Homo sapiens: one gene and its partners. The protein of the gene in region 1 interacts with the protein of each later gene in a biochemical or structural test. Each region holds a gene or a part of one and is shown in the gene's direction. Other genes may lie near its edges.

Region 1 (8,067 bases):
ACTGATGTGGTGTTCTGGGCCTTGTAACTACTGGGGCTTCTGGTGATTCAGTTAGAAAGTTAGCAGCTCCTGTCTGAAGGGTCAAGGGCAGAATGAGGGGAGGCCTTGAGGCAGTATGAGTCCTGTGGACCCTAGGAGGTCTGGGAGCACATGTCAAAAGAGGCCTTTATGTGGGCCTTTTGCTTCTGTCAGATTAAATAACTTGGCACATCTGGTAGTGGGCATGGCCATGCATCACGTGCAGAACTGGTGTGATGGACCATATTTTCTCATATTTCACAGAATTCACTGGCTGGGCATGATCCACAAAGTCCTAACCCATCCCAAACCCTGGAACCCTTTCCATGACGGTTTATTCTGATTTGTTCAGGAGACACATTTCTTCTGTTTTCATGTGGAATGGGCTTTGTTCCTCTCACGGCCGGCAGAGGTTAAATTAAAGGGGCCAGAAAATGCTGAGCTGTGACTAGGATTGGGGGGCCAGTAGGCATTTATTGGCCCCGTTTGCTTCTTTCTTCCCTTTTTTTCTCTGCCTCCTCGGTCAGGGGGTCCAGGACTATCTCTCCAGGGGCATTTCTGGTCTGTGGAGACTTGCCTGAAGGCAGCTGGAAGAGTCTGGGCTGAACTCTAGATGCCTCAGGCTCAAATCTCATATTAGTGAGGGAAGAAAATTCTAAATGTGTAAATGGTACCTGTAAGTCACCTACAAATAATTTTTTTCCTTTCCTGTGCAGTGTCTGGGAGCCAGCTTCTGAGTGTTGTCAAGGTAGTCCTGGTGGCTTGAGACTGGTGATGTGCCGTTGCCAACAATGGCTGTGTAATTCTGAGCAGTTGTTCAGCACTCAAGTGGGATGAGAATGGCAAGGAGTGCTCTGGGTGGCTTTTGACAAGGGACCCCGCCTGTCATTCACTCAACAGGTGTTTGAGGAGCCAGTCTGTCTCCGTCATCTGTTCCTGCCTTACTTAGATGGAAAATAATGAAATCTGTGTAGGAAGGGAGGGTGAGTAGAGGGATGGCCTGTGTTGACTGAACAATAAAATAGTGATGTTAATATATTTTGCTTATTTATTTTCTTAAAGGGAGCTGGCACGTTTCAGTTCTGATACAAGTTAAATATTAACAATGTCTGAAAATACCACAACTTAAACTTTAATATGCATGGGAATCTCCTGGGGCTGATAATAAAATGCAGCTTCTAATTTAGTTGGTCTTGGTTGGGACCTGAGGTTTTGGGTTTCTGACCAGCTCCCAGGTGTTATGCTTGCAGTTGGTCAGTGGCCCACACTTTGTGCAGTAAGGTCTTAATGCATTTCCCCCTGTGTTCACTTTAGTGTCTTTTTCTCTAGAAATTCTCTGAAGAGGACACTTTACCTGGTAAGAACTATTATTAATAATGCTATTACTTAATCTAAGAATTTTTGTACCAAGAATTTTCTAGTGATTAGCCCTACATTGTTGTAAATGACATTCTTAAATGTGTCCATACTTTATTCCAGGGGCAAATATTTGTACAGTGTCCTGCTTTGACATTTGTTTGGATTCCTGTGGATTTTATTTAGTGGTTTCTCTTTTGTTTATGATGATAGAACACTTTTAGAAAGGTTTGAAACCTTTTGAATCTTGAGCGGATTTGGAAGCCCCACCTGCCTTCTTTTAAGAATGTAGGAATTGTATCTGCTTTGAGCTTGTGCATGCTAACACCCCACTTCTTCCAAGGTCCTTGCTCAGTGCCTTCATGTCTCAGCATCACAGCCTGGAACCTGGAAGGCCTCCAAGCCATAGAAAGAAGCAATAAAGATGTCCCAGTGGGGCTTCTGGCTGGGGCCCTTGCCTGTTTCTGTCAGCGTTAGCCCGACCCTACCCTTGGAGGTAGGGTTGGGTTGTCCCATTATTTCCCTGTCAGGGTAGGTGGTATTAAAGCAGCTTTTGTCTTGCTTGCACTGTGAGTCTGTTCTGTGTATAAGGCTCCACTGTGTGGATCACCTCTACTTAATGCCACCTTTTGAAAAATTCTACCACCAAAGTTCTTCCTTGGATAGCAAAGACATTTTTGAATGTTTGTATTTGTGCCTGCCCTAGTTGATCAGTAAATGCATTGATGGGCTCCATGGGACTTTGGACCCATTCCTTTGTCATCTTTCATTAACAGTCTTCCTAGGCTGGTGGTGATGTTGGGCAACTTAATGCTTCCTGAAGGTTTTAGATACTACAGGAGCTAATAATTTATTGCCAAATAAGTGAGGAAACTTTGGATTAGATAAAGTTGGTTTCTTTATGGCACAACATTTCAGAAAATTTTGTGTGCCACAATGTATTATGACACTTTAAGAGGAAGATGGCTAGACTATGGTGGTTCCAAATTTTGGGGGGTCGGGGTGGAGTTAGAACCCCTCTTGTGCTGATTATTTCATTAGGCTAGTTTTTTCTTTCTTTAGTTCCGGGATACATGTGTAGAACGTGCAGGTTTGCTACATAGGTATACGTGTACCATGGTGGTTTGCTACATCTATCAACCTGTCATCTAGATTTTAAGCCCCCCAAGCATTAACTATTTGTCCTGATGTTTTCCCTCCCCTCAGTCCCTCTCCCCTCCCTGACAGGCCCTGGTGTGTGTTATTCCCCTCCCTGTGTCCATGTGCTCTCATTGTTTAGCTCCCACTTATGAGTGAGAACATGCAGTGTTTGGTTTTCTGTTCCTGTGTTAGTTTGTTGAGGATGATGGCTTCCAGCTTCATCCATGTCCCTGCAAAGGACATGATCTCATTCCTTTTTGTGGCTGCATAGTATTCCACGGTGTATATGTACCACATTTTCTTTATCCAGTCTATCATTAATGGGCATTTGGGTTGGTTCCATGTCTTTGCTTTTGTAAGTAGTGCTGCAATAAACATAGGTGTGCATGTATCTTTATGGGCTAGTTTTTTCATACAGTCCTCTCTTAAAAAAAAAAGCTGTATTGAGGTATAATTCACATACCATACAATTTACTCATTTAAATTTGAAGTATATAATTCAATTATAATTAGTATATTTACAGATATGTGCAATGGTGTGTGTGTGTGTGTGTGTGTGTGTGTGTATACAGATTGCTGTGGTCTGAATGTATCACCCAAAATTCATGTGTTGAAACCTAATGGCCAACGTGATGTTATTAAGAGGTGGGGCCTTTAGGAGGTGTTTAAGTCATAAGAGTGGACATAGATGGGATTAGGGCCCTTTTAAAAGGGCCTGAGGGGGAATGGGTTTGCTCTCTTCTGCTCTTCCACCATATGAGGATACAGCATTTGTTCCCCTCTGGAGGGTGTGGCAACAAGGCACCATCTTGGAAGCAGAGAGAGGCCCTCACCAGACACTGAACCCCAGTGCCTTGATCTTGGACTTCCTCTCTTCCAGAACCATGAGAAGTAAATTTCTATTATTTATAAATTACCTAACCTGTGGATTTTGTTATAGCAGCACAGACAGAAATTGATACTGAGAGTGGGTGTTGTTATAGCAAATACTTAAAAGAAAAGTGGAATTGGGTAATGGGTAGAGGATGGAACAGTTTGGAAGTGTTTGCTAGAAAAAGCCTAAATTTCTGTGAACAGAGCATTAAGAATGATTCTGGTGAGGGCCCAGAAGAAGAGGAGAGCCGTAGAGATAACCAGTGTCTTCTTAGAAACTTCTAAGTGGCTGTGATCAGAATGCTGGTAGTATTATAGACAGTAAAGCCCGTTCTGCTGTGGTCGTATATGGAAATGAATATCTTATTGGAAACTGGAGGAAAGACAGTCCTTGCTACAAAGGCGCAAAGAACTTGGCTGAATTGTGCCCATACTCTAGGGCTTTGGGGAAGGCAGAATTTAAGAGTGACAACCTAGGATATTTGGTGGAAGAAATCCGTGAGCATAGTATTCAGTATGCTGCATGACTTCTCTTAATTGCTTACAGTAAAATGTGAGAGAAATGAATTGAAAATGGAATTTATAATCCAAAGGGAAGCAGAGGCTGGGCACTATGGCTCATGCCTGTAATCCCAGCACTTTGAGAGGCCAAGGTGAGAGGATTGCTTAAGCTCAGGAGTTCAAGACCAGCCTGGGCAATATAATGAGACCTTATCTCTACTAAAAGTAAAAAAAAAAAAAAATTAGCGGAGTGTGGTGGTGTGCACTTAGCCCCAGCTACTCAAGGGGACTGAAGTGGGAAGATCACTTGAGTCTGGGAGGTCAAGGCTACAGTGAGCCATGATTCTGCTGCTGCGCTCTAGCCTGCGTGACAGAATGAGACCCTGTTTCCAAAAAAGAAAAGGAAGCAGAATTTAAGGATATGGAAAATTTTTAGCTTGCCCAGGTTGTAAAAACATGTTTGGGAGAAAACACTAAGGGTGTGGCCAAGTGACCTTTTGATAAGGAGATTAGTATGGATAGAAGGAAGCCAGATGCTATTCATCAAGATAATGGAAGAATGATCCTGAAGGCATTTCAGAGATTATCAGTGCTGCCCCTCCCATCAGAGGCCCAGAGTACCAAGGCCCAGGGAACAGAACTTATGTCAAAGGAGAGGCCTTGGGCGTCTGCAGGACCTCAGCATTCACTGCCTGGCATCACTTCTCTGCTCTCTGCATTACAGTGCAGCCCTCCTTGGATATCCCAGCTGTAGCTCAAGGGGGCTCAAGTGCAGCTAGTTCCATTGCTGTGGAAGGCACAGGGCATAAGCCTAGGTGGCATCCACATGGCGCTAAGTCTGCAAGTATGCAGAGTGCAAGAGCTGTGGATGCATGGCTACCTTCACCTAGATTTGAAAGGATGCCTCAGAGAGTCTTGGGCTCAGACAGAGAATTGCTGCAGGATAGGTCTGCTGCAGAGACTCCCTGCTAGGATAATGCCTAATAGAGCCATGGGGCAGGAGTGCCAAAAAGAGCCCCCACTAGGGCAATGTCCAGCAGAGTCTTGAGGCTGGGGGCACACTAGCGAGCTCCCACAAGGACAATGCCTAATGGAGCTGTGGGGGTGGGGCTGCCCTCGAGAGCCTGTAACTGTAGAGTTACCCGTGTGTAGTGCCAGCCTGGGAGAGCTGCAGGTACCCAACTGCAACCTGTGAGAGCTGCTATGAGGGCTGTGCCCAGCAGTTGGCTGCAGGGCTGCCCAGGTCCTTGGGAACCCAACTCCTGCCCCATTGTGTCTGGAAGGCAGGACATGGAACCAAAGATTTATTCTCCAGCCTTACCATTGATTTAATGTTTGTCCTGTTTGGTTTTGGATTTGGTTGGGAAATGTTACCTCTTTTTTCTTTCCTATTTCTCCCTTTTGTAATGGGAATGTCTGTTCTTTGTCTGTTCCACTGTTTTTTTTTGTTTTTTTTTTTTGGAGACAGGATCTCACTGTGTCATTCAGGCTGGAGTACAGTGGTGTGATCTCGGCTCACTGCAACCTCTGCCTCCTGGGCTCAAGCTATCTTCCCACTTCAGCCTGCTGAGTAGCTGGGACTACAGGCGTGTGCCATCACGCCCAGCTAGTTTTTTTTTTTGTTTTGTTTTGTTTTTGGTATTAGAGATGGGGTTTTGCCATGTTGCCCAGGCTGGTCTCGACCTCCTGGGCTCAAGAAGTCCGGCCGCCTCAACCTCCGACAGTGCTGAGATTACAGGAGTGAGCCACTGCTGAAGTCTGAAGTACTTTGCCTCAGGTTGAAACACATCTTTGAGTCTCACATGTCTGATTTAGATGAAATTTTAGACTTCAGACTTTTGAATTGATCCTGGCCTGAGATAAGACATTGGGGCTATTGGGATGGAATGAATGTATTTTGTATGTGAGAAAGACATAAATTTGGGGGACTTGGGGTGGAATGCCATGGTTTGAATGTTTGTGTCTCCTTATGGCCTTATCACTTCCCCAACGCAACTCTATTAAGAGGTATGGCTTTTGGGAAGTGATAAGGTCATGAGGGCTCCAGTCCCATGAATGGATTCTTGCCCCCATCAAAGGGCTGGAGAGAACTAGCTAGGATCCCCTTTTTGCACTTCTGCATTCTGCCATGTGAGGGCACAGCAAGAAGGCCCTCACCAGACACCAAGTGCTGGCATCTTGATCTTGAACTTCCCAGCTTCTAGAACTGTGAGAAATAGATTTTGTTCTTTATAAGTTATCCAGTCTCAAGTATTTTGTTATAACTGCAGAAATGAATAAACACACACACATACATTGTATATAGTGTTCAATTAATATATTCACAGCTATGTGCAACCGCCACCATAGTCAATTTTAGAACAAAAAGAGACCCTGCACCCTTTAGCTATCATACCCCCACTCCCTGCCATCCCATTGCTCCCCCTGCTTTCCCAACCCTAAGGAACTCTACTTTCTGTCTGCATAGATTTCCCTGTCCAGGACATTTCATGTGAATAGAATCGTCTGTGGTTTTTGTGAGTGTCTTCTTTCACTTAGCATAATGTTTTCATGGTTAATCTATGTTGTAGCATGCATTAGTACTTCATTCCTTTTTATGGCTGAATAATATTCCCTTGTATGTGTAGTCCCAGCTGCTTGGGAGGTTGAGGCAGGAGAATGGCATGAACCCGGGAGGCGGAGCTTGCAGTGAGCTGAGATCACGCCACTGCACTCCAGCCTGGGTGATAGAGCGAGACTTCGTCTCAAAATAAATAAATAAATAAACAAACAAATAAATTCCCTTGTATGTATATACTACTTTTTGTTTATTCAACTGTTGATGGACATTTATGTTTCTACCTTTTGGGTATTGTGAATAATGCTTCTGTAAACATTGGTGTATAACTATCTTTGAGTACTTGCTTTCCATGTTTTTGTATATATGTCTAGATTATAATTGCTTCATTATATGGTAATTCTATGCTTAGCTTTTTGAGGAACTGCCAAACTGTTTTCTAGAGCAGCTGCACCATTTTACATTCCCAATAATAATGCACAAGGGTTTCAGTTTCTCCACATTCTTGCCAACACTTGGCATTTTTCGTTTCCTGTCCTCTCCTCTCCTCTCCTCTCCCCTCCCCTCCCCTCCCCTCCCCTGCCTTCCCCTCCCCTGCCTTCCCCTCCCCTCCCTTCCCCTTTCTCCCCTTCCCCTTCCCTTCCCCGTCCCCTTCCCCTTCCCCTTCCCTTCCCCTTCCCTTCCCATTCCGCTTCCTCTTCCCTTGCCTTTCTTCCCCTTCCCCTTCCCCTTTCTTTCCTTATAGCTGTCCTAATAGGTGTTACATCGTTTGGCTGTGTCCCAAATCTCATCTTGAATTGTAGCTCCCATAATTTCCACATGCTATGGGAGGGACCTGGTGGGAGGTAATTGAATCACGGGGTTGGGTCTTTCCCATGCTATTCTAGTGATAGTGAATAAGTCTCATGAGATCTGATGGTTTTATAAAGGGGAGTTTCTCTGCACAAGTTCTCTTCTCTTGTCTGCCACCATGTGAGACATGCCTTTCACCTTCTGTCATGATTTTGAGGCCTCCTCAGCCACGTGGAAATATGAGTCCATTAAACTTCTTTCTTTTGTAAATTGCCCAGTTCTCTGATATGTCTTTATCAGCAGCATGAAAACGGACTAATACAAGGCATCAGATGATTGCTCATTGTGGTTTTGATTTGCTTTTTGTTACTCAGTTGTAGGAATTTATATATTCTAGATATTAATACTCTTATCAGTTATGTGATACGCAACTGTTTTGTCCTTTTCTGCAGGCTGTCTTTTCACTGTCTTCGTAGTGTCCTATGACGCACAAAAATTTTTAATTTTTGATGAAGTTCATTTATTTTATTCTTTTGTTGCCTGTGCTGTTGGTGTCATATCTGAGTAGTCATTGTCAAATCCAATGTCCATATAAAGATTTTTGCATATGTTTTCTTCTAAGAGTTTAACAGATAATTTTATTTCTTCCTTTCCAATTTGGATGGCTTTCATTTCTTTTTCTTACTTAATTGCTCTGGCTAGAGCTTCCAATACTGTGTTAAGTAGAAGTGACAAAAGCAAGAATTCTGTCTTGTTTCCACTCTTTGGGGAAAAGCTTTCACTATTTCGCCATTGAGTATGATGTTTGCTGTGGAATTTATAACAGACAT
Region 2 (8,067 bases), on another chromosome or scaffold:
ATTCTATGTGTGCGTGTGTGTGGTTCCCTGTTCTTCTGTTCCTTGTAGCTTTGGTAATTAATTGTGGATCTGTGCCTGGGCTTTCAGGGTCAGTAAATGGATTTACCATTTCTTTGCACATTTATGGCTTCCATATGGGCAGGGGTTTATGGTTTGTTGTTGTTCACCGTTGCATTTCTAGAGCCCAGAACGATGCCTGGCACATAGTAGGTGTTCAGTAAATATTTGTTCTGCAGTGGGGCACAAGTGGTGGAGTTCCTGGGTGTACTGGGCTCCTTTATCATCTTAAGGAGTTCCTTATTCTCTGCATAATACCTTCCTAAGAATTAGAAGAGCAAGCTCTCAGCAGGTGCTGTTCTATGCGCTTTGCATATATAATCTCAGTTAATCCTCACGGCAAAACCCCACGAGGTGCGGTTTAATCTTCCCTTTTCACAAGTGAGAAAACTTCGCTTGAGGCCAGCAGGCAGCAGGGCTGGGATTGCAATCTAGCTAGTGTGGCTGCAGAGCAATGGTTTCTTAACAAATCTTTGTTCTTTTGAGTCCGAGCCTCCGTACCCCCCACGATTGGGGTGATGGTGAACAAAATCCTGTCAAATAAATGGGCTGTGATGCCTCTTGAAGGCTTGGGGAGGGGCAAAGAACTTTTCAGATCATTAATCTCTAATGTCAACCAATATGGCTTTTTTTTTTTTGAGACGGAGTCTTGCTCTGTCACCCAGGCTGGAGTGCAGTGGCACGATCTCAGCTCACTGCAACCTCCACCTCCCAGGTTCAAGGGATTCTCCTGCCTCAGCCTCCCCAGTAGCTGGGATTACAGGCGTGTTCCACAACACCGGCTTATTTTTTGTATTTTTAGTAGAGACAGGGCTTTGCTGTGTTAGCCAGGATGGTCTCGACCTCCTGATCTTGTGATCCACCCGCCTCGGCCTCCCAAAGTGTTGGGATTACAGGAGTGAGCCACCGTACCTGGCCTTTTTTTTTTTCTTTTTTTTTTTTGAGACAGGGTGTCACTCTGTCACCCGGGCTGGAGTGCAGTGACACGATCTTTGCGACCTCCGCCTTTCAGGTTCAAGTGCATCTCCTGCCTCAGCCTCCTGAGTAGCTGGGATTACAGTCGTGTATCACCACCCTTGGCTAATTTTTGTATTTTTAGTAGAGATGGGATTTCGCCATATTGGTTAGGCTGGTCTCAAACTTCTGACCTCAAGTGATCTGCCTGCCTCGGCCTTCCAAAGACCTGGGATTATAGGTGTGAGCCATCACTCCGGGCCCAATATGGCATTTTGATTGGGATGAAGGGTGGAGGAAAATCAGTGTGATTTTTGTATCTATCTCTCTAGCTATCTATTATTTTTTGAGATGAGGTCTTGCTCTGTTGCTTAGGCTGGAGTGCAGTTGGGCAATGATGGCTCACTGCAGCCTCGACCTCCTGGACGCAAGCCATCCTCCTATTTTAGCCTCCGTAGTAGCTGGGACCACAGGCACACGCCACCCTGCCTGGCTAATTTTTACTTTAATGTGTAGAGCTGAAGTCTTGCTATTTTGTCCAGGCTGGTCTCAAACTCCTGGCCTCAAGCGATCTGCCTGCCTTGGCCTCCCGAAGTGCTGGGATCACAGGCATGAGCCACGGTGTCTGGCCTCTGCAGTTATTCTTATTCTTTGCTTCTCTCCTGGAGACCTGCTTCTTGCCCTTCCCCATTCATGCATAGAGACCACAGGGTGTGGGCTGAGTCCCCAGGGCTCCCCACCTCACCCCACTCTACCCTTGACTTCCATTCCTCTTTGGTTTAAGCAGAACTCTCAATCTTGGCACTGCTGACATTTGGGGCTGGATCATTCCTGGTGGTGGGGGCTGTCCTGTATGTAGAGTGTTGAGCTGGAACCATGGTCTCCACCCATGTGGTCCTGGGAGGATCCCCTTCCCCCCAGGCATGACAACCACTAATGTCTCCAGACATTGCCAGGCACGTCTCTGCAGGAGTTAACCTTTTCCCTGTCTGAGACATTTACCCATCTGGGCTCTTGCTCTTTCTCCTCTCTTTGTTCAATAATCCTCGGCCGGGTGCAGTGGCTCACGCCTGTAATCCCAACACCTTGGGAGGCTGAGGTGGGCGGATCCCCTGAGGTCAGGAGTTTGAGACCACCCTGGCCAACATGGTGAAACCCCATCTCTACTAAAAATGCAAAAATTAGCCAGGTGTGGTGGCGGGTCCTTGTAATCCTAGCTACTTGGGAGGCTGAGGCAGGAGAATCGCTTGAACCTGGGAGGCAGAGCTTGCAGTGAGCCGAGATCACACCATTGCATTCTAGCCTGGGCAACAGAGAGAGACTCTGTCTCAAAAAAAAAAAAAAAAAAGAAAAGAAAAAAGAATCTTCATTTACCCACGTGCTTTTTCAGCCTCTAAACACCCAGTACCCCCCAATCCCCATTACCTACCACTGACCTCCAGCCTCCACCCTGTCCAGCTTCCCCAGGCCAGTCCTCCCTGCCCTTTCCATCTCACTCTTTTCTCACTGTTCTGCCCCCAGCATCTGGCTTGCATCTCCGCTGCTTTACCGATGGCTCTCGAAGTTAATCTCTCATCTCCCAGTTGCGTCTCCTGCAGCCTCACCTCACTTGACCCCTCTGGGTTTGACATTGCCAGTCCCCCCTCCTGGAAGGCTGTGTCTCCCGTCTCACCTGTGCCTAAGTTCTTCTGTTTTACTGTTCTCTTCTCCTTCTACCTGGGCTAAGATGTTGGCTCTCTCTTCCCAGAGGGTCAGTGTTTCCTTTAATCTTCTCTCAGCTCACTTTTTTTTTTTTTTTTTTTTCACTTCTTCACCCGGGCTGGTGTGCAATGGCATGATCTTGGCTCACTACAACCTCCGTCTCCTGGGTTCAAGCAATGGTCCTGCCTCAGCCTCTCCAGTAGCTGGAATTACAGGCATGTGCCACCCCGCCTGGCTAGTTTTTGTACTTTTAGTAGAGACAGAGTTTCACCCCATTGGCCAGGCTGGTCCCAAACTCCTGACCTCAAGAGATCCACCTACCTCAGCCTCCCAGAGTGCTGGGATTACGGGCATGAGCCACCGTGTCCGGCCCTTTTTTTTTTTTTTTTTTTTTCCAATTTTTATTTCTTTTTAGAGACAGGATTTTGCTCTGTCACCCAGGCTGGAGTGCAGAGGTTTAGTCCTAGCTTACTGCAGCCTCCAAGTCATGGCCTGGAGCAGTCCTCCCACCTAGGTTCCCCAAGTAGCTGGAATCACAGGCAGGTGCCACCATGCCCAGCTAATTGAAAAATTTGTTTGTAGAGACAGAGTCTCACTATGTTGCCCAGGCTGGTCTTGATTTCCTGGCCTCAAGTGAGCCTCCTGCCTTGGCCTTCTGAGAAACTAGGATCACAGGCAGGCACCACCATGACTAGCTAATTTTTAAAATTTATTTGTAGAGACAGAGTCTAGCTATGTTGCCCATGCTGGTCTTGAATTCCTGGCCTCAAGCAACCTGCTTGCCTCCGCCTCCTGGGTACCTGGGCTCACAGACAGTCACCACCATGCCTGGCTAATTAAAACTTTTTTTTTTTTTTTGTAGAAACAGGGTCTTGCTATGTTGCCTAGGCTGGTCTTGAACTCCTAGTTCAAGCAGTCTTCCCTCCTGGGCCTCCCAAGTGCTGGGATTATAGGCATGAGGAACCATTGCGCCCAGCTAAGAAATTTACATAGATTCCGACTTCTTCATCTGAACAGGGGTCAGCAAACTATGGCCCTCAGGCCAAATCCCACGGTTTTTGTAAATGCAGTTTTATTGGCATGCAACCACACTCATTTGTCTACTCATCATCTATGACTGCGCAAAAATGCCCCGACACGGCAGGTTGAGTAGTTAAAACAGGAATTCCATGGCCAAAATATTTACACTTTGGCCCTTTACAGAACAGCGTTTGCTGACCTCTGATCTGGAACAGACGCCTTGAGGTTTCATTCATGATAGCATGCCTAATAGCTTGTGCAGTCCCTGGTACAACTCGAATGAAGTGAGTGAAATGAAACGCTATGTCTTTCTCTTTACACCGCAAGAGATGTTAAAGAAACGTGTGTCATTTGCTGCACTGAATATACGGATTCCAAGGATGAGAAAAATCACCGTGATGTTGCCTACTTAGCCATGTGTATTTATTTAAACAGCTATATTGGCATTGAATGAGGATTTCATGCTCTCAACCCTGTATCTAGAACCCAAAATATAACTGGTGTATATAATGAGATTTTTTTTTTTTCTCTCAGGCCTCTCTTGTGTTAATTTCTGTTAAGAATACTTCTGGGCCAGGTGTGGTGGCTCACGCCTGTAATCCCAAGCACTTTGGGAGGCCGAGGTGGGTGGATCACTTGAGGTCAGGAGTTCGAGACCAGCCTGACCAACATGGTGAAACCCCATCTTTACTGAAAAAATACAAAATTAGCCAGGCGTGGTGGCGCATGCCTGTAATCCCAGCTAGTTGGGAGGCTGAGGCAGGAGAATCGCTTGAACCTGGGAGGTGGAGGTTGCAGTGAGCCGAGATTGCGCCACTGCACTCTAGCCTGGGTGACAGAGCGAAACTCCATCTCAAAAAAAAAAAAAAAAAAGAATATTTTTGGCCAGGTGCAGTGGCTCATGCCTGCAATCCCAGCACTCTGGGAGGCTGAGGTGGGAGGATTACATGTGTCCAGGAGTTTCAGATCAGCCTGGACAACACAGCAAGACCCTGTCTCCACTAACAATAAAACAAAAATTAGCTGGGCATGGTGGCATGTGTCTGTAGTCCCAGCTACTTGGGAGGCTGAGATGGGAGGACCTCTTGAGGCTGGAAGGGCAAGGCTGCAGTGAGCTGTGATTGTACCACTGCACTCCAGCCTGGGCAACAGTGAGATCCTCTCTCTGTCTCAAACAAAAAAAGAATACTTCTTGGGGTGGCCTGGTTGATATTTTGCAGCTGCATGGTATTTACAGTTTTTAATTAAATAGTGACGGGTAATGCATTCTCATTGCAAAAAGAAAAATTACAAAAGTGTAGAAAGGAAAAAAAAAACACAGAAGTCCTTCTGCAAAATCTTGTGGTGGGGTGCAGTGGCTCACACCTGTAATCCCTGGACTTTTTAGGAAGCTGAGGTGGGAGGAACACTTGAAGCCAGCAGTTTGAGACCAGCCTGGGCAACATAATGAGACATTATCTCTAGAAAAAGTTTAAAAATTAGCTGAGCATGGTGGTGTGTACCGGTAGTCCCAGCTACTCAGGAGGCTGAGGTGGGAGGATCGCTTGAGCCCAGAAGGTTGAGGCTACAGTAAGCCATATTCATGCCACTGCACTCCAACCTGGGTGATAGAGCCCGACCCTGTCTCAAAAAGAAAAGAAATAATAAAAAAAAATCTTGTCCCCCTGTCCCCAAAAGCATTCCATTCATGTCCAGGGAGGTAACTGTGCCATTGGTTTATGTATCTTTTTGATGTTTAGTAATTTTTTAGGCTAGGTGTCATGGGGCCACTCCTGTAATCCCAGCACTTTGGGAGGCCGAAGCAGGTGGATCTCTTGAGCCCAGGAGTTCAAGACCAGCCTGGGTAACATAGCAAGACCCCGTCTCTACAAAACCCTACAAAAAAATTATCCAGATACAGTGGTGAGCACCTGTGGTCCCAGCTACTAGGGAGGCTGAGGTGGGAGGATCACCTGAGCCTGGGAAGTCGAGGCGCCAGTGAGCTGTGATTGCACCACTGCATCCAGCCTGGGTGACATAGTGAGACTGTGTAACAACAACAACAACAAAATATTTTAAACATTATCATACAGTAAAATTGGCTTTTTAAAGGTGTACCATTTTATGATTTTTAAGCCATGTGTAGAGTTGTATGGCTATTGCCACAATTAGGATAGAGAACAGTCTCGTTGTTGTCCAAACTCCCTCAATTCACCCCTTTATCACTAAACCACCTCCACCCCTAACCACAGATCTGTTCTCCATCCCTATAGTTTTCTCTAGACTTTAAAAGATTTTATCTTATAATTGGATTAATATTCCTAAAGTTGAAATTTTAAATTTGAGTCTGGTTGATCCTCATCATTCCCAGATCCCATATTTTCTTTTTAAAATTTAAAATTTAAATTTTTATTTTGAGAGGCAGGTTCTTGCTCTGATACCCAGGCTGGAGTGCAGTGGTGTGGTCCTAATTCCCTGCAGCCTCCAACTCTTGAGCATCAACGATCCTCCTGCCTCAGCCTCCTGAGTAGCTGGGACTACAGGCACACACCACCATGCTCAGCTAGTTTTTATTGTTATTTATTTATTTATTTATTTTTGAGACGGAGTCTCACTAACTCTGTTGCCCAGGCCAGACTGCAGTGGTGTGATCTGGGTTCACTGCAACCTCTGCTTCCTGGGCTCAAGCAACTCTCCTGCCTCAGCCTTTCTAGTAGCTGGGGTTACAGGCACGCCACCATGCCCGGCTAGTTTTTTTTATTTTTAGTAGAGATGGGGTTTTACCATGTTGGTCAGGCTGGTCTCAAACTCCTGGCTTCAAGTGATCCGCCCACTTCAGCCTCCCAAAGTGCTGGGATTACAGGCGCGAGCCACTGTGCCCGGCCTAATTTTTAACTTTTCAGCAGGGATAAGGGCTCGCTATGTTGCCCAGGCTGGTCTCGAACTCCTGGCCTCAAGTGATCCTCCCATCTTGACTTCCTAAAGTACTGGGATTACAGGCATGAGCCACTGCACCTGGCCCCAGACCCTGTATTTTTGAATTCACCTACTCACTCAAATGTATTTGTAACCCTCAAACCAGCATGCTCAGTGCCTTTCTGGTCATTTTAGGACACTCATAAGTACGAGTCTCAAATGTGAGGTCAAGTAAGAGGGCATTCCACCTTCTTGCTTCAGCCCTTATGCGTCAGATTCATACAATCTGCACACTGAGGATTAAAACTAGTCCTTTTTGAGCAGGCGCAGTGGCTCATGCCCAGCGCTTTGGGAGTCCGAGGCGAGTGGATCACGAGGTCAGGAGATCGAGACCATCCTGGCTAACATGGTGAAACCCTGTCTCTACTAAAAATACAAAAAATTAGCCAGGTGTGGTGGCGGGCGCCTGTAGTCCGAGCTACTCCGGAGGCTGAGGCAGGAGAATCACTTGGACCCAGGAGGTGGAGGTTGCAGTGAGCCGAGATTGTGCCTCTGCACTCCAGCCTGGGTGACAGGGTGAGACTCAAAACAAAAAACAACAACAAAAAAACCTGAGTCCTTTTTGTGGTTATTTGGTGCCACATTTTTAGCATTTTTGTGCTTTCAGTTGGTGATGGGGCTGTTTCAAATGCCCCCCAGGGTGCTGAAGCCCTGCTCTCTACTCTTCCTTGGCTAAGGAGGGCTGTCACCACCCTTGTGGAGAAAAGGCAGCGTGGCGGGGCACGGTGGCTCACATCTGCAATCCCAGCACTTTGGGAGGTTGAGGCAGGTGGATCACTTGAGGCCAGAGTTTGAGACCAGCCTGGGCAACATGGTGAAACCCCATCTCTACTAAAAATACAAAAATTAGCTGGGCGTGATGGCGCACACCTGTAATCTCAGCTACCTGGGAGGCTAAGGCACAAGAATTGCTCGAGCCTAGGAGGTGAAGGTTGCAGTGAGCCAAGGCGGTGCCACTGCACTCCAGCCTGGGCAACAGAGTGAGACCCTGTCTCAAAAAAAACCCAAAAAAACAAAAAAACTCCAAAACCAACACACACACACAAAGGCATGTGTTACATAAACTTTGTTCAGGCATGAGTTCTATTACTGTTGGCCGTGAGTTCGGTGTTAATGAATCAACAATATAGATTCAATAGTGTCTTTCAACAGAAACACACATAAAACAAGGCTAGGTATTGATCCATGGATAAATGTGTTGTGGCCAGAAGTTCGCAGGTACTTACCCTCGCATTTTCCTAGGAACAATGGTTCAGTATTCACTAGTTCAACATTCAGGGGAATTTCACAGAGCCAAACTACCACCAATAACAAGAATCGGCTGCAAGTGGTTTAAAACTGGTGAATCTGTGGCTCATACCCGTAATCCCAGCACTTTGG
Region 3 (8,907 bases), on another chromosome or scaffold:
AAAGTTGTCTAAATCTGCATTACAAGGCAGATTATGAAACTGCCTTGGGAGATGTTTTGTCTAAAAAGCATTCAGCCTGTATCTGCTGGACAGCTGACTCGAGCTTCCACTCTCCACGTTGCTTGGAGCCAGGATGCCTTCTCCAGAGGATGCACCAAGCAAGGCACCGGCAGGCCTGAGGTCCTGTCCACAGACCAGCCGGCCTCTGAGCCCCTCGGGCTGGGGCTGCCTTATGTGAGCCAATCCCCCAGGAGCCTGGGTGGCCGCAGACATTAATCAACCCACCACTCCCGAATGTGTAATTCAAGGTCAGATAAGTGGTCCTCTGCGGCAAATAGGACTCTGGGGACCCAGGTCCCTCCAGCACTGAGAAGGCTTCTGGTTGCATGGGGAGGGCTCAAAGCCTGTGGCCAAGCCAGGATGCAGAAGACAGGTGTGTGCTCTAGCAAGCCAGTCTCGTTGACCACCAGCCCCACACAGCACACAGGTGCGTGCTGTCACCTGTGCAGGTGGGAAGCCCGGACTGTTTGGGTCCAGGGCCCCCTGGCTTTCTATGCCACCCTAGCACCATCCAGTGACTGCTTGGGCCTCATGGCCTCAGCTCCTACAGCTGACAGGACAGAGGCTGATGACAGCGGCAGCTCGTGCTGATGGCCAGCGTCCCTGGGCTAAGGACTCTGTGCAGACTGACTGTCTGCATCCCCGGGGAACTTGGGGAGAAGGAGCTCTGCCTTCCCACTGAGGCACGGAGACTCTGGGTAACCCGCCAAGGACATGGGGACAAGAGACAGAGCGCAGACACACTCAGAGCCCCCTGCAGCCTTCCCACCATGCTACTGCCCCAGGCCACACCTAGACAGCCCCCTGTAGGAGAGAAAACCCTGGCAGAGGGGCAGGAAACACTGCCACTGTCTGCTGAGCCCACTGATGCATCATTGGGCTTTACCCTCAAGGCAGTGCCCATGTTATTGCTCTCATGTCACAGAGGATGACACCGAGGCCCAGAGAGGACCACAGAAGCTGCTGAGTGGTGTGGCTAGCCTGGCTCTGGTGCTGAGCGAAAAGGATGGAGATTCCTCCAAGGGAAGGGGAGGAGAAGACGGGCAGAGGGGAAAGAAGAAAGGAGGGCGAGGGAAGGAAATTCACAAGAGAACAAAGTGTGGGGACATGGAAAACTGAAGTGGGCAAAGTGATAATGATAGGTTAGTGGGAGTAGGTGGGCAGGCTGGTGGGAGGAGGTGGGCTTTCTCTGAACCCCCCAGGGTCTCTGATGGATATGTAGGCCCCTGTTGCTTTTGTTCGGGCACCCGGCTCCTAATCAGGCCCCAGGGAGGATGCAAAAGGGGTCTTCTCCCAGGCCAGGTTGAGGGCTCTTCTGCAAACACCCCTGAGGGCACCTGAGGCCCACAGGCAGGCAGGACCTGCACAGTTAGGTAAAGCCTGTCCTGCACAGCCACACCCTGCAGGCCCAGGCCAGGTGTTCTGTGAGCATGCTCATGGAAGCAGCATATTTGGCATAGGGTGGGCTGGCTGAGCAGCCCCTCTGAGTGCCCTGAGAGCTAGCTGGTGGTCACTGGCTTCCTCCTCGCAGCTGCCCTGGAGGGCACCAACAGCAAGGCCAGGGAGGCAAACCGTGGGGAGCAGTAGACCTGCCCCTCACCTCAATAGCCCGATGGGGGAGCAGAGGGCAGTGGCAGACAGATGGGAAACTGAGGCACCGACCACTTTGCTAACAGTGCACACAGCCAGCCTCAGAGTCTGTGCTTCCAACCACCATGTCACACTGCCCATGGGAGGGACCTGGACCCCTGCCCACGCCCACTCTGAGAGGCCTCGGTCAGCAGTTCCAGGAATGCCACCCAGCCTTCCAGTATCACCAGGACCGAGCTGCGCTCTTGAATGTGTTTCCCCCTACCTGCAAGTCACGAGGCACCCCCAGAGCCAGAGTTTCCTGTCACTGCACTCAGCCTCACTCCAACCATGCTTCTCAGTGCAGGCAGAGACCCCCATGTCACCTGGGTCAGAGGACACAGAGCATCCCGCCCGCCTCCCGCCAGGCAAACCTGCACAGGCATGGCCCAGATCTCTGTCCATGATGGGTTTCCCTCCTCCCTCCCTTCCCTGTGCTGCGTTTTGGTGCTTTGGGGTCAGACCTGAGGTGCTCCAGGTAATCTTCACCTGCTCAGAAGCAATGAATGACCTCCAAGTTCTCACATGCTACAGGAAGATGGTGTGAGCCGCCTGCCCACTGAGCATCTTACCCTGCACTGGGGCAGAGCCTTGAAAATACCATCTCCTCACAGTCACCAGGGAAGGACACTGTTTCAGTCCCCATTTGAGAGATGACAAAACTGAAGCTGAGGAGTAATGTATGCAATGTCACACAACTATGAATGGCAAAATTCAAACTCAGGTCTAATCACTCCAAGCAGATGCCTGCACCAGAACCTCTTGGGGAATTTTTTTTTTTTTCTTAGAGATAGCGTCTCACTGTGCTGCCCAGGCTGGTCTCGAACTCCTGGCCTCAAGTGATCTTCTTGCCTTGGCCTCCCAAAGTACTGGGATTACAGGTGTGAGCCCTTAGCCTGGCCCCTGAACTTTTTTTTTAACATGGATTTTTAGGGAGTGGGGGACCCAGGATGTGTGTCTTCATAAAAGCTGCCCTGAAGATTCTCCAAGGGGACCTGCGGGCAGGGACAGGAAGCACTGACCACACTGTGATGTGCCCTCCTCCAGCTCCCAGAGAGCCCGCGACCCTCAGCAGGGCAGTGTGGCCAGGGTGCCCGAGCCCAGGCCCAGGAAGGCCCAATGGCTACAACTTATTAAGGGCTTCCTGTTTGTCGGGCACTGGGCTCTACCCTCACATGCACCCCTCTTTCTAGTTTCACCCCTTCTTCTGAAAGGGAGATGTTTATAGCTGGGGAAACTGAGGCTCAGAGAGATGACTAAGGGGAGTCAAGAAAGAGAGGCAGAGCCCCCTGCAGGCCCTCCCCACCCCATGGACTGAGAGAAGCCAGGGCCAGGACTCCTGGGCAGCCAAAGACCGGCACGTCTGCTTTGCACTTCACCTGGCCCCCACCTCCCCTTGTGAGACCTCAGGGGGTGGCCTCGCTTCCCCTCTGCTGGGCAAGGAGCTCCTTCCTGCTGCCTGATGTTCTGGATACTGAGCCTACACCCAGGCAGGGCTGAATCTCCTTTCCCCGCAGTCCCTGAGGCCAGCAGGCTCTGGGCCTCACAACTGTCCTCTGCTGAGCGACCCTTTGGTCAGATCCCTGGGCGTGCACGTAGCAGGGAGGTATGCATCTGTGTGCGTGTGTGTCCACGTATGGGAACACAGGTGTATGCATGTATGCATGTGTACAGGGTACACCCATGTGAGGGCCCCCCAGACCTTTTTCCAAGGAGTAAATGACACCCTCTCATAGTGTCAGGTGTTCACTCAGGACCCCCAAGGGTGAGGGTGGAGCGAGAGCGTGGAAAGGCCTAAGGTAGGCTAGGCAGGAGCACAGCCCCAGATGGCCCCTTAAGATGGCCACACAGAGCCCAGCCAGACATCAATGTCAGCCAAGGGCTGGCCAGGGTGGTCCCCGGGAGGTGCAGGGGTGGGGCTATTTAAGCCTACCCACTTCTCTCTTCATTCACCTAGGAGGCAATCACAGGAGCTTGTCTGTAGCCAAAAGATGCCCCCAGCCCCTCCCTACCTATCAGGTCCCTTCCCTGGGCACAGGCCTGAGTGTGTAGCCTAGGTAGCCACTGGCACCAGAGATGGAACCTGTCTGAACCCAAGGGAGCCCCTTGTGGCCAACTCTAGCTCCATAAACTGGAAGGGTGTGGCAGGCAGCCGGAGTCCAGTGGCCCACAGTGTCTCTCCTGGGCTGGCAGGCCTGTGCCCCGGCCACCTGCCCCTCAGCAAGCCAGGTCTGGACATCACGGTTGGCTGAGTGCAAGCCAGCCTCTGTCTTGGCAGCTCCCCCTCCTGCCTGTGAGGGTGACTTCACTTTGACTTCATATCTGCAGTGATGTGCAGATCACTTATTCAGCCCTGAGCTCAGCCAGGCAAGAGGGCGGGGTTCTGCACACAGCAAGCAAGGGAGCGGCTGGCTCAAGGGTGCCCTGGGCCCAGGTTCCCTGGCTTTTCCTCCTCAAGGGCCCATGGGCTTCCCTTCTTCCATCCCTCTGCGCCTAAGTGCAGGCCAGACCTCAAAAAGCAGCCGGGGATGGGGCGAGAACAGAGGACTTCCCCACTGAGCCCACATCCAACCTCACCCAGAACCCCTTCTCAGGTCCAGTTGCTGCTCCCTATTAGGGGTAAATGTGTTTATGCGCATCATTTCCATCATTTCTTTGGGGGAAAATTGGATTCTTTCCTCCTCCTCGCTACTCGCTCTCCGACTCTGCCAGCCCATCTCCTGAGAGTTCTCCTGTGTAAGGGATGCAAGGGCCACCAGCACCAGGTCTCTGAAAGGACGCCGGAGCCAGTTTCCGGTTTCCAAGGGTTGGACCAGTGCTGGAGGGGGGAATCACAAACTGCCCTTCCAGGACCCTACCCTCTCTACTACCCCAGGATGCTGAAAAAGGCTATTCTGCCTCTCTTCCCCTGCTCAGCTCTTCCCCGCCTCCTGCCTCCGGCCCCAGCAGAGGCCGCGCTCCCACTGCGCCTCTCGCCTCTGAGAAATGGCGCAGCAAGCGCTCCGCGGAGAGCCTGGAGGCGGGGCGCCCTTCTCTGAGTCCGCGGGGTCGCACCCCGAGCCAGTCGGCCAGACCTGCATCCCGCGTAGCATCCCTGCCCTCTCTGTGCAGCGGAAAGGGCAAAAGGCAGGGACTGCAAGCGGGCGCGCACCGGGTAGGAAGAGCGGCTCTGCGTAGGTGCGCGGACCCGGGCTCCTGGGTTCCATCCCCGCCGCGCACCTCGGGGTCCGCACCCGGCTCCTGCCGGGCCCTTTTCGGCCGCACCCCGCTCCCGCACCCCGCTCCTCCCCAAGCCCCACCCGGCCCAAGCCGCGCGTCCCGCACTGAGCTCCTACACGCGCCGCGCCCCGGCCGCACCCCGCGCAGCCAGAGCAAGCACTGGAGCCCCGCCCCTTCCCGCACCCCACCCGCCTCCGGCCCCGCCTGGCCCACCCCTGGACCGCCCCCGCCCCGCCCCGCCCCTACCCGCTCCTCCGGCGCAGCCGGCGCTTACCTCGCTTCAGTCCCGCGACCGAAGCAGGGCGCGCAGCAGCGCTGAGTGCCCCGGAACGTGCGTCGCGCCCCCAGTGTCCGTCGCGTCCGCCGCGCCCCGGGCGGGGATGGGGCGGCCAGACTGAGCGCCGCACCCGCCATCCAGACCCGCCGGCCCTAGCCGCAGTCCCTCCAGCCGTGGCCCCAGCGCGCACGGGCGATGGCGAAGGCGACGTCCGGTGCCGCGGGGCTGCGTCTGCTGTTGCTGCTGCTGCTGCCGCTGCTAGGCAAAGGTGAGTTCTGCCGGCCGCCGGCTCCCGCAGGGGCCAGGGCGAAGTTGGCGCCGAGCAGCGGAGCGGGCGCGTTCAGAAGCGCCTTTCTGTTTGCCGTGGGCAGCGGGCTGTGCGGTCGCCGGCCACCCGGCCTCGGCTGGGAGCGCAGTGGCTGCGGCGGGCGGCGGGCGAAGGGCAGGACGCCTCGGGCCGGGCGCCTCGGGCCGGGGCTGGGCGGGTCTCGGGCGGGAGCGGAGCGCGGGCCGGGCCGCGGGGGTCGGTGCTCAGAACCCTAGCCATAGCCGCAGGTCTCAATCTGGCCGCGCCCTGCGCCAAAGCCGCGTCCTGGAGCAAACGGGACAGCCGTTTCGGGGCCGACCTGGCGGACGGGTCAGGGAGCCCCGAAAGCCCGCGATTCGTGCGGAGAGTTCTGTTTCGGCAGGAGACGGCTCCGTCCTGGTTTCCTTTTCCCGCTCAGCGTCCGTGCGTTCCTCCCCCAGCTCTGCCGTCCTGGCCAGCCGAGGGATTCGGAGGCTCTTTTGAAAAGATTGCTTTTCCCTCGTGCGTTTTTGCCGCCCTGTCTTTAAACACCTAAAAACCGTGGTTTCTGGGGTGGCTCCCCCCGAGGGGCCGCCGTGATAGGCGTCCCACCCGGCAGCCCTGGAGTCGTGTGGCGCTGCCTGGCAGAGATGCTGAAGATGCGGCCATAGGAGGCCCAGGGCTTGGGGTGGGGCAGGGGTTTGCGCCGCCAGCCAGCGTTGGTGCTGGGCCTGGTGAAACCTCAGGTGCCTTAGGATCCCAGCATTAGGTGTGGCCTTGCAAAGATGGTCATCGACCCCACCCAAACTCTGGCAGAGTGAGCCGCAAGGCTGTGGAATCTTTGACCCCTTGGCACGCGTTTAAGTGTCCCTCAAACTGGCCCTGACTTGATCCCCTCCAAGCGCTTGTGTATGAACCAAGTTTCCCTCTAAGAGGGAAGGAGCCCTGGCCATCCTCCCTCACTCCTTACAAAGGGCTTTCTCTCCCCACAGCCTTTGGGAACAGAAGAAGCCATGGTCAGTCACCCTGTCTCTGGCCCCAGGCCCTGCACAAACTGAGTTTCCAGGCCTGCCTGAGACTTCATTTGTGTGACCTGCGCCTCAGCTCAGCATATGCTGAGGCCAGAGCGGGTCCCCAGTCCACCTAGCGAGGGACAGGGGAGAAGCCCTTGCCTTTCTATCTTTTCTGAGTGTTAGGACTTTGGGGTCCCAGTGCTGCAGGGGGAAGACACGGGGCAGAAGCAAACAAGGCGCTCTGACGCTGTCTTGGGATTCTGGGCTGTGGCTTTGGCTTTGAGGTTGTGGGCAGGGGGCCAGGTGTGAACTGCTGCTGGTGTGCTGGGCAGAGGACTTCCCCACACCCTTCCACAGCCTTGCGTTCAGTTGGGGTGGCCAGTGAGGCTGTGGGGGCCAGGCTCTGGGGGCCGGCTTGTGGCACTCAGCAGGCATGCAGGTAGCTTTCCGTGCCCAGACCCCTGGCCCACAGACAGCTTCCCGAATCCAGAGATGGTGAGCCCCTAGCCCCTGGGATAACCCGGACACCACAGTTGGAGGCACTGGGAGTGAAGAGGCAGCCCCACTCCCTGGAGTAGACAGCTGGGGCCTTTGAAGAGGCTGCAGAGCTCTTTCCCAGGAGCCACAGCTCCGGAGGTTCGAGCCGCACTCTTGGAGCTGCCAAGGACCGCCCCAGTGAGCCCCTCGGTGCTCCCCAACCACCCCAAGGGGACAGCTCGGCCTCAAGCGCCCTCTTGCGGACGCTGCACTTTAGTGGCTGGGCCTGATGACAGGCACAGACTGGGTCTCTAGAGGATGAGGGTTCTTCCACAGCTCACACATGCACACTCACACTGGATCACCAAGACACACTCCTGCCCCTTCTCACAGCACTTGCTGCCAAGGCTGTGGACATGCACAGCGTGGTTCCTTCACACCCTGCCTCACCCACGTCCACACAGGGACCCCAGCCCCTCTCATCACTCATACACACAGGGACGCCACGTGTGTATATAGGGACACACACTCCTCATACCTGCAGGGCATAGCCTGTCAGCCCCAGGTATGCTGGAACCAGAGTGAGAGAACCTCCATCTAAAAGTTACATTCATTTAAAAGTTGCTCTTAAAGGTTTCTGGCATTTCATTGCTCAACACAGATACAGCTGTCCCCGTTGCTTGGATGAGGAAACTGAGTCTCAGCTTCTGGGGTTCCCCCCAGGTCCCAGGCTGACCCTGCACCTCAACCTCCCACAGCTCCTCAGCAAGCCTCTTGTCTCTTGTCTTCCTGGCCTGACTTCTTGGGTCCTGTTTTGCAGCAAGGAAGGACATTCCCTCTCTGCCCCTGGGCCCCGGGGCCTTCTGTTCCCAGCATGGAAGAGCTGGGCACTGTGACTTGGCAGGGCCCGGATCCAAGCTGCCAGACCACCCTCTGCAGAGGGCCTAGGCAGCCCACCCCTGCCTGAAGCACCAGGTATCAGCGCGGGCAGCTCAGGCCAGGGGTACAGCTCCCCCTGCTTCATCCTTTTCCTTCTCCCCTTTCTCTGGCCAGAGGCTTCACCAGGTTCACCTGGGCCTGGCTTGCTTCCTCCTCCACTCCAGCTCACTAACCCTGTCTGGCCTCCAGAAGCTGCCTGCAGCCCTCACTGGTGGGCTGTGCCTGCTGGGGGCCTGCAAGCAGAGAGCAAATGGGGAAGTGCATTGAGCTGATTCACTAAATTGCCTTTCTTCTGCAGAATCACTTTAGGGACAGGCTGAGGAAATCACTGTTTCCTTGGTGGTGTGAAGAAAATGGGATGCGATCACCTAGCGGGGAGCTAATAGCCTTTTAGCCAGTGGAGGAGAAAACCAATTAAAAATTATGATATCTGTTAAAATGGAACCTGGGGTGCCAAGGGGAAGGGAAGGCCCGGAAGCTGCCATCTCCCCTGAGACCTTCCCCCTCTGCAGCCTGGCCGAAGACCCTCTAGGTCCCCTCGTCTTAACTGGATAAGGCTAATACCAGCAGTAGCACCCCATGGGGGCTCACAGTGCACTGCCCCTGTGCTGTGCCTACTCACTTCATCTTTTCCAACAAGTCTGCAAGGGTCATGGTCTTGGCCCATTTCACAGGTGAGGAAACAGGTTCTCATAGCCTATGGACTCGAACCGGTAGAGAGGATGCGGGAGCTCCCCAGCCCTGGCCCTCTGGCTTGCTCCAGCCCGTTCTCTGGGCCAGTGGTGTGGGTCCAGGGTGGGGCTAAGGAGGGCTTCCAGGGAGGTTGCCCTGAGCCTGCCCACCCACTGGTGAGTCCCCCCACCTCGGGCTCCAGGTGCCCTCAGGACATCCCAGCCCAGATCCCAGAGTAATGTGTGGCACCATGCACAGACGCTGAGATACTCTCTGGGTCTCGTCAGCTTTAGTTGATGTCTGGGAGTCCTATGGGTCTGGGGAGGAGCACCAGG

The links.
Region 2: the proteins of GRB10 (region 1) and INSR form a complex in vitro, tested with the Homo sapiens proteins (5 studies listed by BioGRID and IntAct).
Region 3: the proteins of GRB10 (region 1) and RET form a complex in vitro, tested with the Homo sapiens proteins (2 studies listed by BioGRID).

The regions. Positions count from the first base shown.
Region 1 is NC_000007.14:50,772,443-50,780,509, reverse strand, and holds part of GRB10 (growth factor receptor-bound protein 10), read left to right. Parts: intron 1-5,349; exon of another isoform or gene 5,350-8,067.
Region 2 is NC_000019.10:7,283,698-7,291,764, reverse strand, and holds part of INSR (insulin receptor isoform Long preproprotein), read left to right. Parts: intron 1-8,067. UniProt on the Homo sapiens protein: Receptor tyrosine kinase which mediates the pleiotropic actions of insulin.
Region 3 is NC_000010.11:43,071,879-43,080,785, forward strand, and holds the start of RET (proto-oncogene tyrosine-protein kinase receptor Ret isoform a precursor), read left to right. Parts: upstream 1-5,190; 5' UTR 5,191-5,380; coding exon 5,381-5,453; intron 5,454-8,907. UniProt on the Homo sapiens protein: Receptor tyrosine-protein kinase involved in numerous cellular mechanisms including cell proliferation, neuronal navigation, cell migration, and cell differentiation in response to glia cell line-derived growth family factors (GDNF, NRTN, ARTN, PSPN and GDF15).